4 separate regions of the Homo sapiens genome follow, and regions 1, 2 and 3 are each linked to region 4. Evidence: fine-mapped expression QTL. A gene starts in region 4. Each other region holds a variant in brackets. All regions are shown on one strand. Distances are between the middles of the regions. Region 1 has its middle 11 kb from the start of CD22. Region 2 has its middle 4.6 kb from the start of FAM187B. Region 3 overlaps MAG (myelin associated glycoprotein). Region 4 holds the start of USF2 (upstream transcription factor 2, c-fos interacting).

The links. PIP is the estimated chance that this variant, and not a neighbour inherited with it, causes the effect. A credible set is the group of variants that fine-mapping cannot tell apart.
Region 1: its variant is the best candidate, but not a certain one, in a credible set for the expression of USF2 in lung (TOPMed, PIP 0.50).
Region 2: its variant is the best candidate, but not a certain one, in a credible set for the expression of USF2 in whole blood (TOPMed, PIP 0.83).
Region 3: its variant is the best candidate, but not a certain one, in a credible set for the expression of USF2 in whole blood (INTERVAL, PIP 0.65).

Annotation. Positions count from the first base shown.
Region 1 is chr19:35,315,777-35,320,920 of GRCh38, reverse strand. No RefSeq gene overlaps it. Among named protein-coding and RNA genes, the nearest start is that of CD22, 11 kb to the left of the region's middle. RefSeq lists an enhancer at 1,697-1,876. The variant T/C (reference allele first, on the strand shown) is at 2,024.
Region 2 is chr19:35,230,754-35,235,897 of GRCh38, reverse strand. It overlaps the pseudogene FAM187B2P. Among named protein-coding and RNA genes, the nearest start is that of FAM187B, 4.6 kb to the right of the region's middle. The variant C/T (reference allele first, on the strand shown) is at 2,763.
Region 3 is chr19:35,303,931-35,309,074 of GRCh38, reverse strand. All of the region lies in intron 7 of MAG (myelin associated glycoprotein), which reads right to left. Among named protein-coding and RNA genes, the nearest start is that of MAG, 14 kb to the right of the region's middle. RefSeq lists an enhancer at 3,458-4,345. The variant C/A (reference allele first, on the strand shown) is at 2,697.
Region 4 is chr19:35,266,859-35,272,002 of GRCh38, reverse strand. USF2 (upstream transcription factor 2, c-fos interacting) reads right to left here and starts at 3,041. Exons shown (of 10, transcript NM_003367.4): 1 at 2,840-3,041; 2 at 2,511-2,557; 3 at 2,304-2,422; 4 at 2,000-2,200; 5 at 1,406-1,556; 6 at 1,198-1,285; 7 at 862-920. The coding sequence starts at 2,901. It overlaps LSR (lipolysis stimulated lipoprotein receptor), which reads right to left. Exons shown (of 10, transcript NM_205834.4): 8 at 5,036-5,144; 9 at 4,269-4,894; 10 at 4,039-4,179. The coding sequence ends at 4,144. RefSeq lists an enhancer at 946-1,685 and silencers at 1,973-2,292, 2,433-2,622, 3,781-3,930, 4,031-4,100, 4,181-4,260.

The sequences.
Region 1 (5,144 bases), 49 kb before region 4:
CCTGAGAACGCAGCCTCGGCGCTTTCACTCTTCCTCCCTGTTCCTTCAAACAGGTCGTTGGTCTCCTTTTTTGGTGACTTGACTGTCACCCCTTTACCAGGGAAGCAGTGAAAGCAGGCAACTAACAGAGTCCCTGTGAGCCCTGGGTGGCTACTCCCTGCCTGGCTATGTCCCCCTCACCCCCCAACCTCTGCCCAGGATGGTAAGACGGGAACAATGATAGTGCCTTCCTCACCGGGCTGGTGACAGCACACACAGGACACACTCAGCAACTCGCACATCCCATGACAAGCATGTGGTAAAAAGACCCGGGTTCCAGTCCCAGGTCTGCCACGTGTTTGTTGTGACATCACCTCAGTTTCCCTCCCAGGGTGATAATAAGATTGCTGTTATGACTTCAGGGCTATGCTGTGACAGGTCCCCAGCCCCTACAGCACTTTGCATGGTGGCTGCTATGGAACGGGCTCTCTGTAAAAGTGAGCTGTCATTATTCCAGACATTGTCACTTACGCTGCTGACCCAGCACTCCCTGCAGACATTAATTCACCCACCTCTGGCTACTCAGCCCTAGCCTGAGCTTCACAGAGAGGCCCTTTGGGACTAAACTGTCATTTCCTTCCCGCTCCCCAGGCAGATCGAGCTCTAGGGTGGGAAGGGGCCTTTGGCTCAGCTGCTGCCAGACTTCTCTGTTCTATCTTTGCAACTTCCTGTGATAATTATTTCAAAATTAAAAGATTTTTTTTTTTAATTTGCGAGGTTGAGGTTGTCACCTCCTGTTTAAGGAGCAGCCTGGAGTTGAGAGCGAGAAGAGTGGGGAAAGAAAGAGGCTCGCCTACTTCTCCTTTTTTTCTCCCCCTTTTTCTTTTCTTTCTTTTTTTTTTTTTTTTTTTTTTTTCTGAGACCAAGTCTCACTCTGTTGTCCAGGCTGGAGTGCAATGGTGCGATCTCAGCTCACTGCAGCCTCCGCCTCCCAGGTTCAAGCAATTCTCCTGCCTTAGCCTTCTGAGTAGCTGGGACTACAGGCGCGTACCACCACGCCTGGCTAATTTTTGTATTTTTAGTAGAGATGGGGTTTTGCCATGCTGGCCAGGCTGGTCTTAAACTCCTGACCTTAGATGATCTGCCCGCCTTGGCCTCCCAAAGTGCTGGGATTACAGGCATGAGCACCACATTCGATCTTTTTTTTTTTCTTTTTTAGTGACTGAGTCTTACTCTGTTGCCCAGGCTGGCATGCAGTGGTGCACTCATAGCTCACTGCAGATTCAAACTCCTGGGCTCAAGTGGTCCTCCTGCTTCAGCCTCTTGAGTAGCTGGGATGACAGGCATGCACTACTGTGCCCAGCTTATTTTTAAACATTTTTTTTTCTACATACAATGTCTGCTGTGTTGCCCAGGCTGGTCTTGAACTCCTAGAAAGCACTTCTCAGCAGTGCGGTGCATCTCTACCCCCGGCCAGTCGCAAGAGCCCAGCCCTGCATGATCACCCACCTGGGGAGGAGGCTCTGGAGTGGCCAGTGCTGGCTGGGAGCTCTTTCATCAAGGAGGATAATGGAGCTGCCTGCCCCAGGCACTGTCCCAGGGACAGGGTGGGAGGCGGGCCAGGGATGGATCAGTCATCTCCGTCAGGAGTGACTCAGGAGGTTGGCAGACCGGGAGGGACAAAGAGACCCGTGTCATGACCATGGCCTGGTGCCTGGGTGTCCTCCCTCCCACACGTGGTGGCCCAGCCCTACTGGCACGTGAGGCCATGAGACCTTCTCACCTTCCTTCCTGCCTGGCCAACCCTCATCTCAGCGTCTGCCCCCATCTCTCTGAGTCACTGTGTCATGTGTTCTGACTCTTCCTCGGCTTGGCATTTCCCAGGGAGGGGGTGCCATCTGCCTTCCCTGTCCCTGAGGGCCTCCCTGGGCCTGAACTCGGCCGGAGTAGATCACTCTTGCGTTCTCCACTGAACCTGCCCCTCCTGCTTTCTTCAACCTCTTAAGGAAGCTGCTGGAGTCACCTTTGACTCTTCAAGTGAGTC[T/C]CACCACTTCCTCCTCCAAAATGGGTCCTGACCCCACCCCTCTCCCCATCTCCACTTCCTCTCTCTTGGACAATGGCCAGGGCCTCCCAAGCCCTGTCCCTGCCTCCACTGATAGCCTGTGCTCACTGTCCACGCAGCTGCCAGTGGGCCTCTGAAGCCTCAAGCCTGCCATCACACCCCTCCGAACTCACTTCTCCAGCGGCTTCTCAACGCGCTCTTTGAAAGCCCAAGTCCTGGCTGGGCACAGTGGTTCACACTTGTAATCCCAGCACTTTGGCAGGCAGAGGCAGGCAGATAACTTGAGGTCAGCAGTTCGAGACCAGCCCGGCCAACATGGTGAAACTCCGTGTCTATTAAAAATTAGTTGGGCATGGTGGTGCGTGCCTGTAATCCCAGCTACTTGGGAGGCTGAGGCAGGAGAATCACCTGAACTCGGGAGGCGGAGGTTGTAATGAGCCGAGATCATGCCACTGCACTCTAGCCTTGGTGACAGAGCGAGACTCCATCTCAAAAAAAAAAAAAAAAAAAAAACCTAGGATTAAATTCCATTGCTGGGCGGGATGGCTCACGCCTGTATTCCCAGCACTTTGGGAGGCTGAGGCGGGTGGATCACCTGAGGTCAGAAGTTTAAGAGCAACCTGGTCAACATGGTGAAACCCCGTCTCTACTAAAAATATAAAAATTAGACAGGCGTGGTGGTACATGCTTGTAATCCCAGCTACTCAGGAGGCTGAGGCAGGAAAATTGCTTGAACCCGGGAGGCAGAGGCTGCAGTGAGCTGAGATTGTGCCACTGCACTCCAGCATGGGCAACAGAGTGAGACTCTGCCTCAAAACAAACAAACAAAGAAACAAACAAACAAGCCCCAGTCCTGCCTGTGGCCTACAAGGCCCTGTGTAATCGAGCTTCCTTGGGCAACAGAGCGATACTCTGCCTCAAAACAAACAAACAAAGAAACAAACAAACAAGCCCCAGTCCTGCCTGTGGCCTACAAGGCCCTGTGTAATCGAGCTTCCTTGGGCAACCACTCTGGCTCCATCACTCCACTCAAGCATGCTTCTTTCCTTCTTGTTCCATGAAGGTAACAAGTACATTCTCGCCAGGGGCCTTTGCACTCGATTTTGGCCTTCCCTGGACCCACATTCCCCAGGAACCCACAGAGCTCCCTCCCTTACTTCCTTCTGGTCTCAAGTCAAATGACTTCTCTTTCTGAAATGGCAGCCTGACCCAGCACAGCCTGACCTTGCACCCCTCTGCAGTTCCTTCACTGTCAGATGTGCGGTCATGTGTTTGCTTGTCTTTCTGATCGTTGTCTGTCTCTTCTGCAGAATGTCAGCTCTGGGAGGTCACAGAGTGATTCTTTTTGGGCACTGCTGTGACCCTGGGGCCCAGCATAGGCCTGGCACACAGAGGTGCTCAGTGAGCATGTGTTGAATTCTGGTGGGGTCCAGGAGCTGGGTGGGGAAAGTCTGAGAGAGTGAACTTGAGTTCAGGTCCTACTGGTTTGTTTGTTCGTTTTTTGAGACAGGGTCTCACTCTGTTGCTGAGGCTGGAGTGCAATGGTTCAATCTCGGCTCACTGCAAACTCCATTTCCTGGGCTCAAACTATCCCTCCCACCTCAGCCTCCCGAGTAGGTAGGACTACAGGCGCATGCCACCATACCTGCCTAATTTTTGTATTTTTTGTAGAGACAGGGTCTCGCTATGTTGCTGAGGCTGGTCTCAAACTCCTGGGCTGAAGCCATCCACCAGCCTCAGCCTCCCAAAGTGCTGGGATTACAGGCATGAGCCACCGCACCTGGCTCGGTCCTACACGTTCGCCATGGCTGAGTGCCGGTCCCTCCTAAGGATGGTCTTTGTGTCAAATTCCCTCATTGTTTCCCAAACTTTAGAGGTTTGCCTACAACCTTCAGGAGCCACCTGCAACATGTTTATTTAATACATTTTTAAAATCAGTTCAGTTGATTGATTTCTTTCTTATTTATTTATTTTGACTTAGCCTCATCCGAAGCTGGTGCGGCATTCTGGTTTCCTGTTGTTCCGGTGCATACTAAATGAAGCATACACAGTAGCGTCACAGTGGCTCCCAGGGCCCTCAAGCTGCACTTTGGGCAGCGTGAGTTACTCCCCGATCCCTGGTTATTGACAATGTTTTGCTCCTCTGGGTGAAGTCCTCCCAGGCCAGACCTGCTGGAGCCAGAGTCTGTCGTCAGGGGACAGGTGTGTCAGGGCAGGGCTGGTGAGCATGTATGCAGGGGATCTGGAAGAGGCTTCCCTCCCGGCTGCTGAGAGGCCCCTGTGTATCCCCAGCCCCATCCGATGCCTCTCTGGCCTTGCTTCAGCTCCTGGAATTTTGCTAAACATGTTCCCACTTGGGGCCTTCACACATGTGTGAGTTTCCTTCCATAGGGAAGCCTCCCCTGCCCCCTGTGACCTTAAGTCACACAGCGGTCCCCAACCTTTTTGGCACCAGGGATTGGTTTCATGGAAGACAATTTTTCCATGGGCCTGAGAGTGGGGAGGGAGCTGGGGATGATTCAAGCACATTACATTTATTGTGCACTTTATTTCTATTATTATTACATTGTGATATATAATGAAGTAAGTATACAACTCACCATCATGTAGAATCAGTGGGAGCCCTGAGCTTGTTTCCCTGCAACTAGACGTTCCCATCCGGGGGTGATGGGAGACAGTGACAGTTCATCAGGCACCATCTGTGAGTGTGCAACCTAGATCCTTTGCGTGCACAGTTCACGATAAGAATCGTGCTGCTATGAGAATCTAAAGCCGCTGCTGATCTGACAGGAGGCAGGACTCAGGTGGTCATGCTTGCTCGCTGGCTGCTCGCCTCCTGCTGTGCAGCCCAGTCCCTAACAGGCCACAGACCAGTATCTGGGTGTGCAGTATAGCACTGGGGACCCCTGCTGTAAAAACTCTGAGCTTCTCCTTGGAAGCCGGTGTCACAGTTGCAGTTTGATATTGTGCATGAGATTCTTTCATGTCCTTGTCCCTGCAAGACTGTGAGCTCCGTGAAGAAAGGGCATGCACCCTCCCAGCTTGGACAGGCCCCACAGAGGGTTTCCCTTCCCACAGCCCGGCCCCCCACACGTCTCCTTTC
Region 2 (5,144 bases), 36 kb after region 4:
TAATAGACATTAGCCATGGAAATCATTACTGCCATTTGCCAAAAGATTCCTGGAAATAGTAGAGTTCCATTTTTTTTTTTTTTTTTTTGAGATGGAGTCTTGCTCTGTCGCCCAGGCTGGAGTGCAGTGGCGCGATCTCGGCTCACTGCAAGCTCCGCCTCCCAGGTTCACGCCATTCTGCTGCCTCAGCCTCCCCAGCAGCTGGGACTACAGGTGCACACCGCCACGCCCGGCGAATTTTTTTGTATCTTTAATAGAGATGGGGTTTCACGGTGTTAGCCAGGATGGTCTCGATCTCCTGACCTCGTGATCCGCCGCCTCAGCCTCCCAAAGTGCTGGGATTACAGGCGTGAGGCACGGCGCCCAGCTAGAGTTCAATTTCTTTTGTTGGCTTGGTGGATTGGTGGTGCCATGTAGCTGTTTCTAGCCAATGGTTTGTGAGCAAGCGACATGACATGTGTTACTTAAGGGCAAAGCATTTAATGTAGACCCAAAATCTTACAGAGAGCTCTTTCTTTCTCCTTGGAAGAAACTGAAAATGTTTGAGATGGCAGTTGCGCCATCACCCTGGATTCCTGAGTGATTCCAATACCAATGCACAATGAGTAAAAAGTAAACCTTAGTTGTTTTATGTGGTTGAGATTTGGGGGGAATTTTTTTTTTTTTTTTTTTAGATGAAGTCTTGCTCTGTCACCCAGGCTGGAGTGCAGTGGCATGATCTCAGCTCACTGCAACATCCACCTCCCGGGTTCAAGTGATCTTCCTGCCTTAGCCTCCCAAGTAGCTGGGACTTCAGGTGCATGCCACCACACCTGGCTAATTTGTGTATTTTTAGTAAAGACAGGGTTTTGTCATTTTTTGTATTTTTAGTAGAGACAGGGTTGGCTAGGTTGGTCTCAAACTCCTGACCTCAGGTGATCTGCCCTCCTTAGCCTCCCAAAGTGCTGGGATTACAGGCGTGAGCCACCACACCTGGCTGGAAGTTTATTATAGTAGCAAATAACTTATCTAGATTGATACCAAAATAGTATCAGGAGTAGGGTGCTGAGGTAATCAAAAATAAAAAGACAGCATTGGCTTAGATACCTTTGGGACTAAGACACTTATTTGAAACCAGAAGGATGGAGGCTGTTGCCTGAGATACTCTGGAAGGCAGATAATGTATTTAATGGACTTGTAGCTTTCAAGGAAGCTGCTGGAATATAAGATGTTAGCAGTATAAGTTGGCCAAAGTTAGCTAAAAATTGAGAAGGGCTTTGAGAGATAAAGTCCAATTAGAATTCAGCTTTTGACAAGGATAAAATCAAAAGTATAAGCCTAGGTAAATAATTATTACCCATTGTTTAAAAATTCTCTGAATGAATTAAGATACTACCAGAAAACGCTTTCAGGTGGACAAATGTCTCCATGAAAGAGAGTTAAGAGATATAGCTCGCCAAGGATGGCTGATAGAGTTTAAGGTACCTGAAATGAGAAAGAGACAGAAAGAGAGAGAGGATAAGAGCATCTTTTTTTTTTTTTTTTTTAGACAGAGTCTTGTGCTGTTGCCCAGGCTGGAGTGCAGTGGTGTGATCTTGGCTCACTGCAACCTCCATCTCCCAGGTTCAAGCAATTCTCCTGCCTCAGCCTGCTATGTAGCTGGGATTACAGGAGCCCACCACCACACCTGGCTAATTTTTGTATTTTTAGGAGAGACAGGGTTTCACCATGTTGCCCAGGCTGGTCTCGAACTCCTGGCTTCAAGCAATCCTCCCACCTTGGCCTCCCAAAGTGCTGAGATTACAGGCGTGAGCCACCGAGCCCAGCCTGAGAACATCTCGAACAGAACTACGGCTATGTGTGTGTTTTTGTTTGTTTGTTTGTTTGTTTGTTTACATATTTAGTTGACTAGAGGCTTATAAGAACCGTAGGTCCCAAACTGTGGGAGATAGAAAGCAGGCTGAGTAAACTGCTGTTGTCTCAAGGAGGGCACATCTTCAGATGTAGCCAAGGAGAATATGAGAAAAGGAGATATTTCCCTGGAGAGTGAGACATGACCCACAGAGAACAATGATTTGGGAATCCCCCTACCCTCCCCACACACAACAAGGAGCTGCTTCGGTGCTAGTTAAGGAATCTTTCCCATCTACAAGATAGGGGGTCCTTGTAATGTTTTCCCACTGGATTGCAGAAGTGGTACAGAGCAGTGATTTCTGTGTGTCTTCCCTTTCTCTCTCTCTCTTTCTTTTCTTTTTCTCTCTCTCTCTTTCTTTCTTCTTTCTCTTTTTTTTTTTTTGAGACAGAGTCTTTCTCTGTTGTCCAGGCTGGAGTGCAGTGGTGGATCTCAGCTCACTGCAACCTCTGCCTCCCGGGTTCAAGAGATTCTCCTGCCTCAGCCTCTCAAGCAGCTGGGAATACAGGCATGCACCACCACACCTGGCTAATTTTTGTATTTTTAATAGAGACGGGGTTAGACGGGGTTTCACCATGTTGGTCAGGCTGGTCTTGAACTCCTGGCCTCAGGTGATCCACCGGCCTCAGCCTCCCAAAGTGTGCTGGGATTACAGGTGTGAGCCACTGGGCCCTGCCTCTTCTTCCACTTTCTGATGGTCATAAAGTCATTTTGTCCCATTCCATCATTATATATTGGGTATGTGGAGGGCCAATAATTTGCCTTTGTAGTTCGTTTGTTCTGATTTAAGCTCACCCATTTTGTTTCCTGCCTAGCTCATGTGGATATTTGACCTTCGACCCTACAACCTATGACAAGCCATTTGATGACA[C/T]GAACTGAATTGTACTCCTGGAAGCACAGTGGATCAAGTTTCATTCCATTGCCTAGGCTGATCCTCGAGTTTTGTGAGTGACTTCACAATGGCCAGGGAGTTCCTAGCCTCCTTCTACAGCCTTGGTCCACTATGCTGGACACCCTGTGGCTGCTTAGCCTTTCTTGCCCCACTCTGTGAGCCTAGATGTTAATCAGCTGTGCCTACAAGGACCTTTGCCAGCGAGCCCTACTCTCAGGCAGTGATGCTGTCCTGAAGTGTGACCATCCCATGGCACTCTGGTACTTCTCTTCCATTCTTGGGGAAGATCCTTCTCTGCTTAATTCAATGCCTGACATAAGGAAACTGCCTGGGGGTAGCCTTCAATTGACCAACCCTCAGCCCTCCCAGACTGGCCTCTATCGCTGCCAGGGCAATGATGATACCCTCATGGTACAATACGAGATCGACTTCCAGGTTGTCACCACCCTTCATGTTACGCACAAGAGCCTGGACCAAAAGTCCCTGCAGAATGAGACCCTGATCCTGGATGGCAAGGTACTCATCTTTACCCACTGGGACCCCCGGCAGGACTGTAACCGCTGTGGGGAACTGGGTGAGTGCAGACGCCTGGGGTACTGCTACATTGAGGAGCCCGTGGAAAAACCTATGCCCTGCCAGCTGTATCTGAGAGATGAGAAGATGCAATTCAGCCGCATGCGGCCCGAACTGCAGGTGGAAGCCTGCCACGTACCCTGCAACCCCGTCAAGGAAATTCACTAGCCATACCTCATCTTTGATTTTTACCAGCCTGGCAAGTGGATGAACAACAGGTGGCTCACCTGCCCCTTGGCCTCCATCTACAGGTGACAGGACCAGGGCCGTAGCCCTGCCCTTGACCCTCACCCAGACTTTGTTTTCTGTGTTCACCTGGGCTCATGGGTTACCTTCCAACAGAAAACCGGGCTCCGTCTCCCAGCCCATAAGCCTTCATGTTGGTTCTGCTAAGGAAAAGGTCTCCTCACTGGCTTGCTGAGATGCGCATGCAGGAAGAATTCCCTGGTGTTTCCTCTGAGTGTGCCCTGGGCAGGTGATGTTAGGGACACAGCAATGACCTAGTTCTTGTCTGCACAGGCTTCTGATATTCAGGGGGAGGCCAAATGTAGAATCTAGAGACCGAGCTACTCAGGCCCATGGGCTCATGACAATGTAGACACTGATGTTTCTGTCTCCTGATTGGACCCTGGATACAATTTATCTATCCATCCTTGTCCCAATGCCACAGTGTCTTTGGTTTTCTTTTTTTTTTTTCCTTTTATTTGTTTATTTATTTTTGAGATGGAGTCTCCCTCTGTTGCCCAGGCTGAAGTGCAATGGCGCAATCTCAGCTTACTGCAACCTCCATCTCCCAAATTCAAGCGATTCTCCTGCCTCAGCCTCCCAAGTAGCTGGGATTGCAGGCATCCGCAACCATGCCCGGCTAATTCTTATATTTTTAGTAGAGAAGGGGTTGGCCAGGCTGGTTTTGAACCCCTGACCTCAAGTGATTCTGCCCTCCTTGGCCTCCCAAGTGCTGAGATTACAGGCACAAGCCACTGCACCCAGCCCACAGTGTCTTTTTATACCTTTCAATAAGTCACAATATGTGGTAGTGTTTCCCAACTTTGTTCTTCAAGATTGTCTTGGTTATTCTTGGCCCATTATATACAAATTTTGGAATCGGTTTGTAGTTTCCACCCCAAAACTCTTATTTTTTTTTAATTGGGACTTTATTGAATCTAAAGATAAATTTGGGGTAAATCAATATATATTCAATATTTAGTCTTCCAATCCGTGAATGTGGCAAATACTTCCATTGTTTAGTCTTTCTTTAATTTCTCCCAATAATGTGAAGTTATTAATGTAGAGGACTCACATATCTTTTATTATATTTATTCCTAGGTATTTAATTTTTTCATACTATCCTATAGTAATCTTTTAAGTTTCATCTTTTAATTCTTTGTTGCTGGTATATAAATCATATTTAATATATGACCTTATATCTAATTTTTTGCTTGTATCTTACCTCCAGTAAAATGCTGAATGGAAAAGTTGATGGCAGAAATACTTGTGTTATTCTTAGTATTTTACTATGAAGTATAATTTAGCCCTAGGTGTTTTTGTTTGTTTGTTTGTTTTTTGTTTTTTTTTTGAGACAGGGTCTCACTCTGTTGCCCAGGCTGGAGTGCAATGGCGCAATCTCAGTTCACTGCAACCTTCGCCTCCTGGGTTCAAATGATTCTCCTGCCTCAGCCTCCCAAGTAGCTGGGACTACAGGCACCCACCATCACACCCGGCTAATTTTTGTATTTTTAGTAGAGATAGGGTTTCGCCATGTTACCCTAACTGGTCTCGAACTCCTGA
Region 3 (5,144 bases), 37 kb before region 4:
CTTGTAATACATAAATCAGATCATGGCACTCTCTGCTCAAAACCCTCCTTCTGTTGCTCCGTGGTTCACCTAAAATACAAATCCTTTATTTTTTATCGTTTAGAGACAGGGTCTGGCCCTGTCGCCCAGGCTGAAGTGCAGTGGCAGTACTATAGCTCATTTGCACTCTTGGCCTCTAGTGATCCTCCCGCCTCAGCCTCCCAAAGTGCTGGGATTACAGGCATAAGCCACTGCGCCCAGCCACATTTGACCATTTTTGACATGCAGAAAAAATTTCACATAGTTCAATGTAATGTATACAGCAAAAAGTACGAATATTCACCCTAAATGAAATCAGTATAGATTACAAACAGCCTTGTGTTCTTTAGGCGAGATTTTGCTGTCAAATCAGGGTGGTGCCAAATTTGCAAAAAGCCTTTTGATTTTAAAGCTTTATGTTCAGAATTGCAGAGGACGGTAAATCTGTCATACTCATGATAGTTACTGGAGGGTTTTTGTTTGTTTTTGTAGAGACAGGGTCTTGCTATGTTCCCCATGCTGGTCTTGAACTCCTGAGCTCAAGCAATCCTCCTGCCTTGGCCTCCCAAAGTGCTGGGATTATAAGGCGCAAGCCACTGTGCCCAGCCCAAAATACAAAGTCTTTCATCTACAAGGCCCCTCAGGCCCTGCCTGACCACACACTCTCTCCTTCTCTCCCCCTGGCTTAGTCCTTTCCAGCCACACCGGTTCCTTGCTGTGTCTGAAAATCGTGGAGCTTTCTCCCACTCCAGGGTCTGTACGTTTCTCCCTCAACTTGGAACACTTCCATCAGTTGCCTGTGGAACGCCCTCCCTCGCTCCAAACTGGCCTCTACCCATGCGGCGTCTCCTTCTCTGACCACCCAGGGAAGCTGCACCTCGCTCCACGTATCATTCACTCCCTGCCTCACTCAGTTCTCCTCCCCAGCACTCACCCTCCCTGCATCACACACTTACATAAGGGGCCTCCTGTTTCCATCAAGACAGGGGCTTGCTCCTTCTCCACTCTGGGCCCCACACGTAGAAGGGAGGAACCATGGAACTCTCCCAGCCCCCGGCCTCCCCAGACCCTTGGGGCTCACACAGGCTTAGACTATCCCCTCCTTTCTGGCTTCCAGGCTGTGCTCCTTCCTTTCAGTCTGCGCTGCAGATGCCCCCCACTTCCTCCCCTAAAGCCGCCTTGAACCCCGGCCCTTCCTCACCCATGAGATTCCCTCCTGCCACTAGCACCAAACACCACCCTCCACCCAAAGTCACTTGGTTGAGCTTTGCTTTGCTGCCACTGGATTACAAAAATAGTACTGGTAGGTTTTTTCTTTCATTTTCCAAAACAGGAAATTATTATTATTATTATTGTTATTACTATGATTTTTGAGACGGAGTCTCTCTGTCGCCCAGGCTGGAGTGCAGTGGCACGATCTCTGCTCACTGCAACCTCTGCCTCCCAGGTTCAAGTGATTGTCCTGCCTCAGCCTCTTGAGTAGCTGGGACTACACGTGCGTGCCACCATGCCTGGCTAATTTTTGTACCAAAATACGCAATTGTATTACAGCACAGAATGCTGCTTTTTAAACTGTGTTCTCTTTCTTGGCCTGAGAGTCCAGCACCCTCCTTGGCTTGCTCTAGACTGAGCACTGGTTCTCAGTGAGTTCTCACCAAAACCCACTTACACACAGGCAAGAGACCCTTGGCTCACCTACCCCACCTATTTTCAATTGCTAGCAAAAAGAATGTGCCGGTAACGGTGGTGGACCTGGGAGTCACACGGGCACACGGATTCACGGCAGGAATGGGAACCTCTGTGCAAACATCTCTAAGTCTACTGAATAAAAAGTCCTGTTCGGGCAGAGCTGCAATATGCTTGCTATAGCGTTAACCAGCTAACACGCCACGGAGTACATTAATAACAGCGAACCTGAACCGACAGACATAAAACTTTTTCAAAGCACTTCCACTCAAGACAGCCCCACTGGTGCTCTGGTGACAAAGTGTTCGACCTGGATGTCGGCGGAACGCCGACACCCTGCCGGTGCACGTGCTTAGTATCTTTTCAGACAACCTGTGAAGCTGCGGAAACTGTTATGGGACTCTAGACAAACCTGTAAGACAAAGGTACAAAGAATGAGGAGTTTGTGGTGGGATGGATTTGGCTTGAATCCCAGCTCTGCCATCTACTGGCTGGGTGAGGCCACTCAGGCTCCTGGGCCTCTAGGATGGAGTTCTCATCTGTGCAAACCAGGGGGTTACAGTCAGTAACTCACAAGGGGCTACGGGACTCCGAAGATAGGCGCGCAAGTGTGTTGTAAACACTTAACATCCCAGCCGGGTGCAGTGGCTCACACCTGTCATTCCAGCACTTTGGGAGGCCAAGGCAGGAGGATCACTTGAGCCCAGGAGTTTGAGACCAGCCTGGGCAACAGAGCAAGACCCCATCTCTACAAAAAATTAAAACATTAACTGGGCATGGTGATGTGTGCCTGTAGTCCCAGCTACTCAGGAGGCTGAAGTGTGAGAATCAGTTGAGCCCAGGAGGTTGAGGCTGCAGTGAGCGATGATCAAACCACTGCATTCCAGCCTGGGCAACAGAGCAAGACCCTGTCTCAAAAAAATAAAAAATTAAAATTAAAAATACGTAACATCCCACCCAAGTACTCATGGGTGGATAGACAGAACCATTCC[C/A]GCAGAGAGGTCACATGAGCAAAACCTCAGCAGCAAAACACACAACAAATATTTAACCTGGAGTCCAAAGGAAAAATCAGTGAGAAAGATGATGACATCCAATATCCACAGAGTATGTAGCACTATGAACACTCAGTATTGTTCTCTTAGTTCTTCTTTTTTGTGGGGGAGTGGGGGGGTGGGACAGTCTTGCTCTGTCATCCAGGCTGGAGTGTGGGGGTGGGACAGTCTTGCTCTGTCATCCAGGCTGGAGTGGGGGGATGGGACAGTCTTGCTCTGTCATCCAGGCTGGAGTAGGGGGGTGGGACAGTCTTGCTCTGTCATCCAGGCTGGAGTGGGGGGATGGGACAGTCTTGCTCTGTCATCCAGGCTGGAGTGGGGGGGTGGGACAGTCTTGCTCTGTCATCCAGGCTGGAGTGGGGGGCTGGGACAGTCTTGCTCTGTCATCCAGGCTGGAGTGCACTGGCTCCATCTCAGCTCACTGCAACCTCCACCCCCCGGGCTCAAGCGATTCTCCTGCCTCAGCCTCCTGAGTAGCTGGAACTGCAGGTGTGCGCCATCACGCCTGGCTAATTTTTGTATTTTTAGTAGAGATGGGGTTTTGTCAGGTTGGTCAGGCTGGTCTCGAACTCCTGGCCTCAAGTGATCCAACTGTCTCAGCCTCCCAAAGTGCTGGGACTACAGGTGTGGGCCACCACGCCCAGCCTAATTCTCTTAGTTCTCACAGCCATCTTTGTGGTAAGATACTGTTATGAACCCTTGCTAAGGGTTGCAAAGCTGAAGTCACTCGCCTGAGCTCAGGCAGGAGGATGGGGACAGAGCTGGGATTCTAGCCCAGGTCTGTTCAGCCCTGTTGGGACTGGATGCCAGTCAAACTTCTGTTTCCTTGTATTAAACTGGGTTGAAGAATGGTACCCTCCCCTCAATCACATGGTTGTAAGAACAAAATAGGTCAATGCGTACAACGTACTCAAGCTAGTTCCCTAGACATCTCAGGCACTCGGTAAGGTTGCACACTTCCTGCATGCCCCGTGCCGTTCAGGGCTCTGGGGTTGGCAGGTAAGACAGAAGGCCCTGCTCAAGGGTCACCACCACTGTCAGTGAACATTGGAGACCTGGTGCCAGGGAACATTGACTGTGTGGAGAGGGAGGGGGCCTGAGGGTCGCACTCTCCAAGGGCAAGCACTTTGACACAGGCCTGGGTGAAGAGTAGGGAGCTGGCAGGTGGGGCAGGGGACAGGGCCACTGCTCCCCTCAAGTCTAGCAGGTGAGGCCTGCACACTCCACATCTGCCTGCGTGTTCGTTTTCAAGAGAAGCCGGATTGAGTCCTAGAGTGCTAAGAGCTGTGAGGGAGGTGAGGCAGCCAGAGGTTTAACAGCTGGGGCAGACAGGAGTCTGGAATTATCGGGCTCGGACCCACTTTTATAGCTGCCTGGCCTCAGGGAATTCCGCCCTTGAGTTTTCTCCTTGGTAAAGGGGATAATTATAACACACCCCTGTTTCACAGGGTGACCCTAGAATTGAAAATGAGCCAGATAGGCTGGGCATGGTGGCTCACACCTGTAATCCCAGCACTTTGGGAGGCCGAGGCGGGTGGATCACTTGAGACTAGGAGTTGGAGAACAGCCTGGGCAACATGGAGAAACCCCGTCTCTACTAAAAATAAAAAATTAGCTGGGCATGGTGACGCATGCCTGTAATCCCAGCTAGTTGGGAGGCTGAGGCAGGAGAATCGCTTGAATCTGGGAGGCAGAGGTTGCAGTGAGCCAAGATCGTGCCACTGCACTCTGGCCTGGGTGACAGAGCGAGACTCAGTCTCAAAAAAAAAATAATAATAATAATAAAAATAAGAACTGAACCAGAAAACAGCTGTAGAGGATTCAAGGTCTGGCCCAGGGCAGGCCCCTAACGCGCATTTGCTGCCTGCTGCTCTTACTATAAAGGAGAGATCTGCACCCCACCGGAAAATGTATGTGAGTTGGTGCTGCAGGCTTGTTCAAGTACTCCCATCGGCTCCTCTCTCTGACTCTTAAACTGAAGAATCACTGGTGTGGGGTGTAACAGGGATCAGGGGACAACCAGAGGGGGAAGCTGGCCCAGGATAGCACGCACAGTTGGAGGGAGCAGGGGACCACGCAGCCCCGCGCCAGGATCACATCAGCCCCGCTAGGGAACAGAACCAGGAGGGAAAGTGCCTGAAGATTATAGGTCAGCAGGAGAGGGACGGCTTTGCCACGAGAGGTTGCCCCCGAGGACTAACCTGTATCTGCCATGTACTGATTGTCGCCATGTACACAGCACAGAGCATGTACTGTGTAGCAGACACTGCTTTGAATTCTTTGCATGTTGAATGTCATCGAACCTTCTGGCAAACTTGTGTGGTGGGGGCCATTGTGGGCATCGTGAAGACCAGAGAGGTGAAATTTGGGGAGGAGTGCTAGAAGCCA
Region 4 (5,144 bases):
GCATTCTAAATGGAACTTCTCCCACAACCAAACCAGCACCCCACAAAGTAACCTGACCCACACTCCCCTCTCCCTAGGGAAGCGTCACCCCAGCCCACCCCCCATCAATGTCCCATGAGACCCATGAGACATAAGCCCTCAGGCCTTTGAGCCTCCCTGACGCTCCAGGCCAGACTCCAGACCTGGCACAGGGCCTGTGCCGCTCAGCCCAGAACCCACGGGCAGTAAATATTTGTTGAATGATGGTTGTTTGGGTGTAAGCACTCTCCTGGCACTTGCACAGTGCTGTGCCCACTGCAGTGGCTACTGACAGGCGGGGCGGGACAGTGCTGAAGGCCAAATGACCTGAGGTGAGACCTGGTGTTTCTGGAAAGGGCAGGATGCTCCGGCCTTAGGTAGCCAGAGGCAGAACTTCATGCAGTTTCTCCCTCAGATGTGCTCCCTGGGGGAACAGACCTACTTCTGGAGGCCAGGCAGGCATGGGAGTGCGGGATGTGAGCATGACAGCTGCCACGTGGAAAGGTCAGCCCACGTGAGCCCGGTCAGCCCCATTTTTCAAGTGGGGCAGGCAATCCGTATGGGAGTGTGAAGTCCACCATCTTAGATGTGGGCCATGAATTCAAGATCACCAGCCGGGTCAACAAATGGCCAGTTCCAATTCACACTCCCTGTCCCTCTACTTCTGACACTGTACTCTCCCCTCGTTGCTCACTTTCTACCTTTACAGCGTCCAGCAAAGCCCTCTGGAGCACTTGTGGCCTGCCCAGGAGTGGCTTCTCTCTCTGTCACTCCACACTCCAGGGCTGGCTGAGCCTGTGAGGGTGGTGGTCAGGGGGACCCGGAGCCACACCTTGTCCTCACCTTCGTTGTGCTGGGCTCTTCTCCTCTCATCTCGGGGTGTTCTGGTTCCATCAATTTTTCTACAAGAGGAGGAAAAAAAAAGGGGGCATGTATTATCGCAGAGCTGTTTGCCCAAGCATCTGCTAAGTATTAGATTTGAAAATTATCTTTGCAAGGTAAATCCATCTGCAAAAACAAAAGACATGATACTTTATGTGCACTAGAGCAGCAGAAACAGGCAAAGAAAAAAAACATTACACCATGTGCCCACTTCATGCTAACTGCCCAGCTTCTACTCCAGAAACCCCTCTTCCTTCCATTTCAACACCAGGCCCTCCAGGTGTCCCCTGCACATACGGAGAGTAAGGGTGTGTCCGGGGGGCGATCGTCCTCTGTGTTCCTGTCTGAAGCACATCCTGGGGCGTCATCATGACGTAGAACTGGCCTGCAGGGAGAGTGGGGGGTTAGTGGCAAGGCAGGGTGAAGTCAGAACTGGCTGGGGGGGCTTCCCTCCCTGCTGGGCCCGTTGCCTCCCCCACCTGCCAATCTGACTTCTACTCCTCACCTCCAGCCTGCAAGCTCTGGTCTGTGGTCTGTACGGACACAGCCGTAGTATCTCCCACACTGGACGCTGGGAAATAGGCAAATCGTGCCTCCCCGCTGACAGCCTCGGCCGCCGGACTGCCACCATTGCTGAAGGGATTTTGGATCACAGCCTGGGGAGTAGGAGGGCAGAGGCTACCCTTAGCTTTCTCTGTTCCTCCATCCCGTCCCCTCATTGCTGTGCTTGGGGTTTACTGCATTCTCTGCAATTAACAGGAGTGGGGACTCCTTCTGCGTGTAGCATTCTGTCCTGTGTTTCAAACAGCCCTGGAACATGGCGGGAGGTCAGCGATCACTTGCTGAGCAAATCCGTTTCGCACTCTAAGAAACTTTCCTCTTAAGACACATCATTCCCATTTTGCGGGAAAAAAAAATTCCAAGAGCACTGTCCCCAGGTTTCACGGTGCACAACAGGGATCTGGCCCCATGCAGCCTGAGGCCTGAAGGCAGCATCCGCTGGGCGACACCTGCCCCACCCCCGGGGCTCCCCAAGAGCAGAGCCAGTGTCCCCTCTCCACTCCCTCCCCCCCCCACCCAGGGGTGGCAGGGCACCTACCAGCGGGAAGGGCGCTGCAGGACCTGGGGGCACAGAGGCAGCGGCGGGGCCCGGGCGCTGGGCTGCCCCGTCCACACCCACCTGGGTCACAGCCTGCTGCCCCCCCGCGAAGGCAGCGGTGGACACGACGCTGACGGCGCCAGCTGTGTCGCCCTGGCCGTCCAGCTGACCATCAGTCACCTGGACTACGCGGTATGTCACCTGCAGGGGGCGGCAGAGCGGCGAGGCCGGCGCTGGGGCCAGGTCCGAGCCTTCCCGGCGCGCCCGCCCGCCCGCCCGTTCGCCCTCGCGGCCCGCCGCTCACCTGTCCTCCATTTGTCTCTGTGCGGAACTGGTACTGGATGTTGTGGTCGCCGAACGCCGCCTGCTGGACGCTGGTGATGGCCACCGCTGTCTGCTCCTCCGCTCCTGGGCCGTCCCCGCCTGGGGCCGAGGAGGGTCGGGGCACGGTCAGGGCCGCGCCGAGCGCCCCCAGCCCTCCCCGGGCGCGGCCGGCCCGGCAAGCACTCACCTTCCTGCAGCTCGACGCCCTCCTCCGCCTCGGGTCCCTTGTCGTGGCTGCCAGGGGCACAGGAGGGAGCAGGGTCAGCGCGGCCCGCGCCCGCGCCCCCGCCCCCGCGCCCAGCTGCAGGGCCCCAGTCCCACCCGGCCGCGCCTGAGGCCGGGGGCGCCGCCGAGGCCGGGGGCCGGGGGCGGGAGGCGCCAGGTCCCCCCCGCGCCGGCGGCCTCCATTTTGAGCCGGGCCCGCGGCCGCTCGGGATCATGGCGGCCCCGGCCTGCAGGCCGCGGGGCCGGGGCCGGGGCCGGGGCGCGGGGGCACGGCCGGGCCGGGGATCTTACCTGGCGGCGGCAGCAGCGGTGGCCGAGGCAGCGGGATCCAGACCCGGGTCCAGCATGTCCATGGGGGGGGCGGGGGCGGGGGGGGCGCGGGGCCCGGGGGGGAGGGGAGGGGAGGGGAGGGAGGGAGGGGAGGGGGCGGGCGGCCGGGGGGGCCCCGAGCCCGGCGCTCACGCCGCGCGGCAGGAGGGGACGGAGGAGATACGGGAGCCGCTCGCGCTGATCACGGGGACAAACAGTGGGGTCATGTGAGGAGGAGATGCCGCCGCCGCCGCCGCAGCCGCCGCCGCTCCTGCAGCCGCTGCAGCCGCCGCCGCCTCCGCCTCCGCCCGCCCGCCGGCTCCGGGCGGCCCGAGGCTCCGGGACGCCGCGCGGCCGCCCCCAGCCCACCCAGCTGCCCGCCCGCTGCACGCGGCCCTCAGGCCTCCTTCCCTGAGCAGCCGCCGCCGCCGCGACTTTTTTTTTTGAACACGGCCCGCCCTGGCTGGCCGCCGCCAGTGCCCTGGATCGCCGGCTCGCGCGGCCGCCGCCCGGCTTGGCCCAGTCCGGCGGCGGATCGCTGCTGCAGCCGCCGCCGCTTTCTATTTTTCCCCCTTTTTTTTTTCCTCCTTTACTTGAGCTGCGCGCGCGCGGCGGCGGCGGCGGCGGCGGCGCGAGCCCCGGGGCGGACGCGCGCTGGGGGGAGGCGGCCCGGGGCGCGCGCGCTGGTCTGTCTCCGGGGGCGGGCGGGCGCGCGCGAGCCCGGGGCTCCGCGGGGCGCGAGGTCGCCGCGCGCCGCCCTGGTGAAACGCGGGTCTGGATGGAACGTCGGGGTACCCGGTGCAGGGGCTGGGGTCGTCGGGGGCCAGGTGGGCTGCCCGAGTTTGGAGACAGTAAAGTAGGTCGGTGGGGGGCTGGGGGGGATGGGCTGGAAGGGGAGAGGAGCGCGCGCGCGTCCCGGACGGCCAGCCTGCGGTGCGCGAAGGCGGAGGGCCGGGGCGCATGCGCACGCCTGGGCGGGGCCGGGGCGCGCACGCAGGCGGGCGGCGGCTGCGCGGGGCACGTTCTCCGGCCGGCGGCGCGGGCGCGGGCCGGGCCAGGCTGGGTCTCTTCCTCCCGGCCCCGGACTCCGGTGCCCCCGGGACGCGGCGCTTTACAGACGCATACGGGAGCAGCCCCGGTCCCCCGCCCCGCGCGGCCGAACAAATGGTTCTCTCCAGAGCTTGTGATTATACGTTTTATTAGACTCGGGAGGGGTATGGCAGGGCTTCATCAGTGTTCCTTCAAATTAAAAAAAAAAATACAAAAGCTACGTAGAAAACGTCAGATCAGACGACTAAACTTTCCCGACTCAGGGCCAAGTTCTGCAAGGGAGAAAGAAAGAAGGGTATGAGCCGCGGGGACCGGCTGGGGGCCCAGGGACGGTCTGGACGCCAGGGAGGGCGGCCCTCACCTTCTTGAGCCTGCGCTCTCGGGACGCCTGCGAGTCGGTCTCCGAGTACGGGGGCGGCGCGGGCGGGTAGTAGGCCTCTTCCTCCTCCTCCTTGTGGGGTCTCCTCCTCTCCTCCGACCCCTTCTTCCTCACAGCCTCCTCCAGTAGCCGCCCATCATAGGGGAGGTCCCCGGACCTGGAGCCGTTGTCCCGAGGGTCCCGGGTACGGTGGTGGTGGGACCTGGGGTCGGCAGGAGGGCGCTCCCGAGACCTGAAGTCGTCGTAGTGGGGGTCCCGGGAGCGTGGGAAGTCCCTCGAGTCGTCTTGGTCATAGAGGTCGTCCCGGCTGCGGCTCCGCGGGGGCATGTAGGCCCGGCTTCTCCCACCATTACTCGTGGGAGACCTGCTCCCTGACTCGGCGGTGCTCGGCGGGGTGAGGTCGTCCAGGGCGTCCACGGAGCGGGCCCGGGGCCGCCTGGCCCGCCAGCCCCCGCCTGCCTGCTCCCTGGCGGGCTCCTGGTCCCATCCCCTGGGACTCCGGGGGGAGTGGCCACCCCACTCCTCATCCCGGATCGGGGTGAGGGCAGGGCCCCGGGAAGGCCGAGATCGCCAGTCGTCCTCGTGGAGGGAGGTGACTTCACTCATGGCTGCAGGGAAGGGGGGTGTCACTGACTGCTGGAGGAGCCCGGGGTCCAGGGTTTGCACCAAGAGTCCCTGCGGCAGGTATCAGGGAGACATGTTTCACCCCCCCACCTTAAAAGCCCTCAGACCCCAAGGCTCCTGCTTACCCCGCTCCACACGGCCACTGGGGGGGCCAGGTCGAGAAGGGTCGAAGTTGGCCAGCTCCTTCTCCATGTAGTACAGGACCCGCATGGAGTCGTCCTGCTGGCTGGCCTG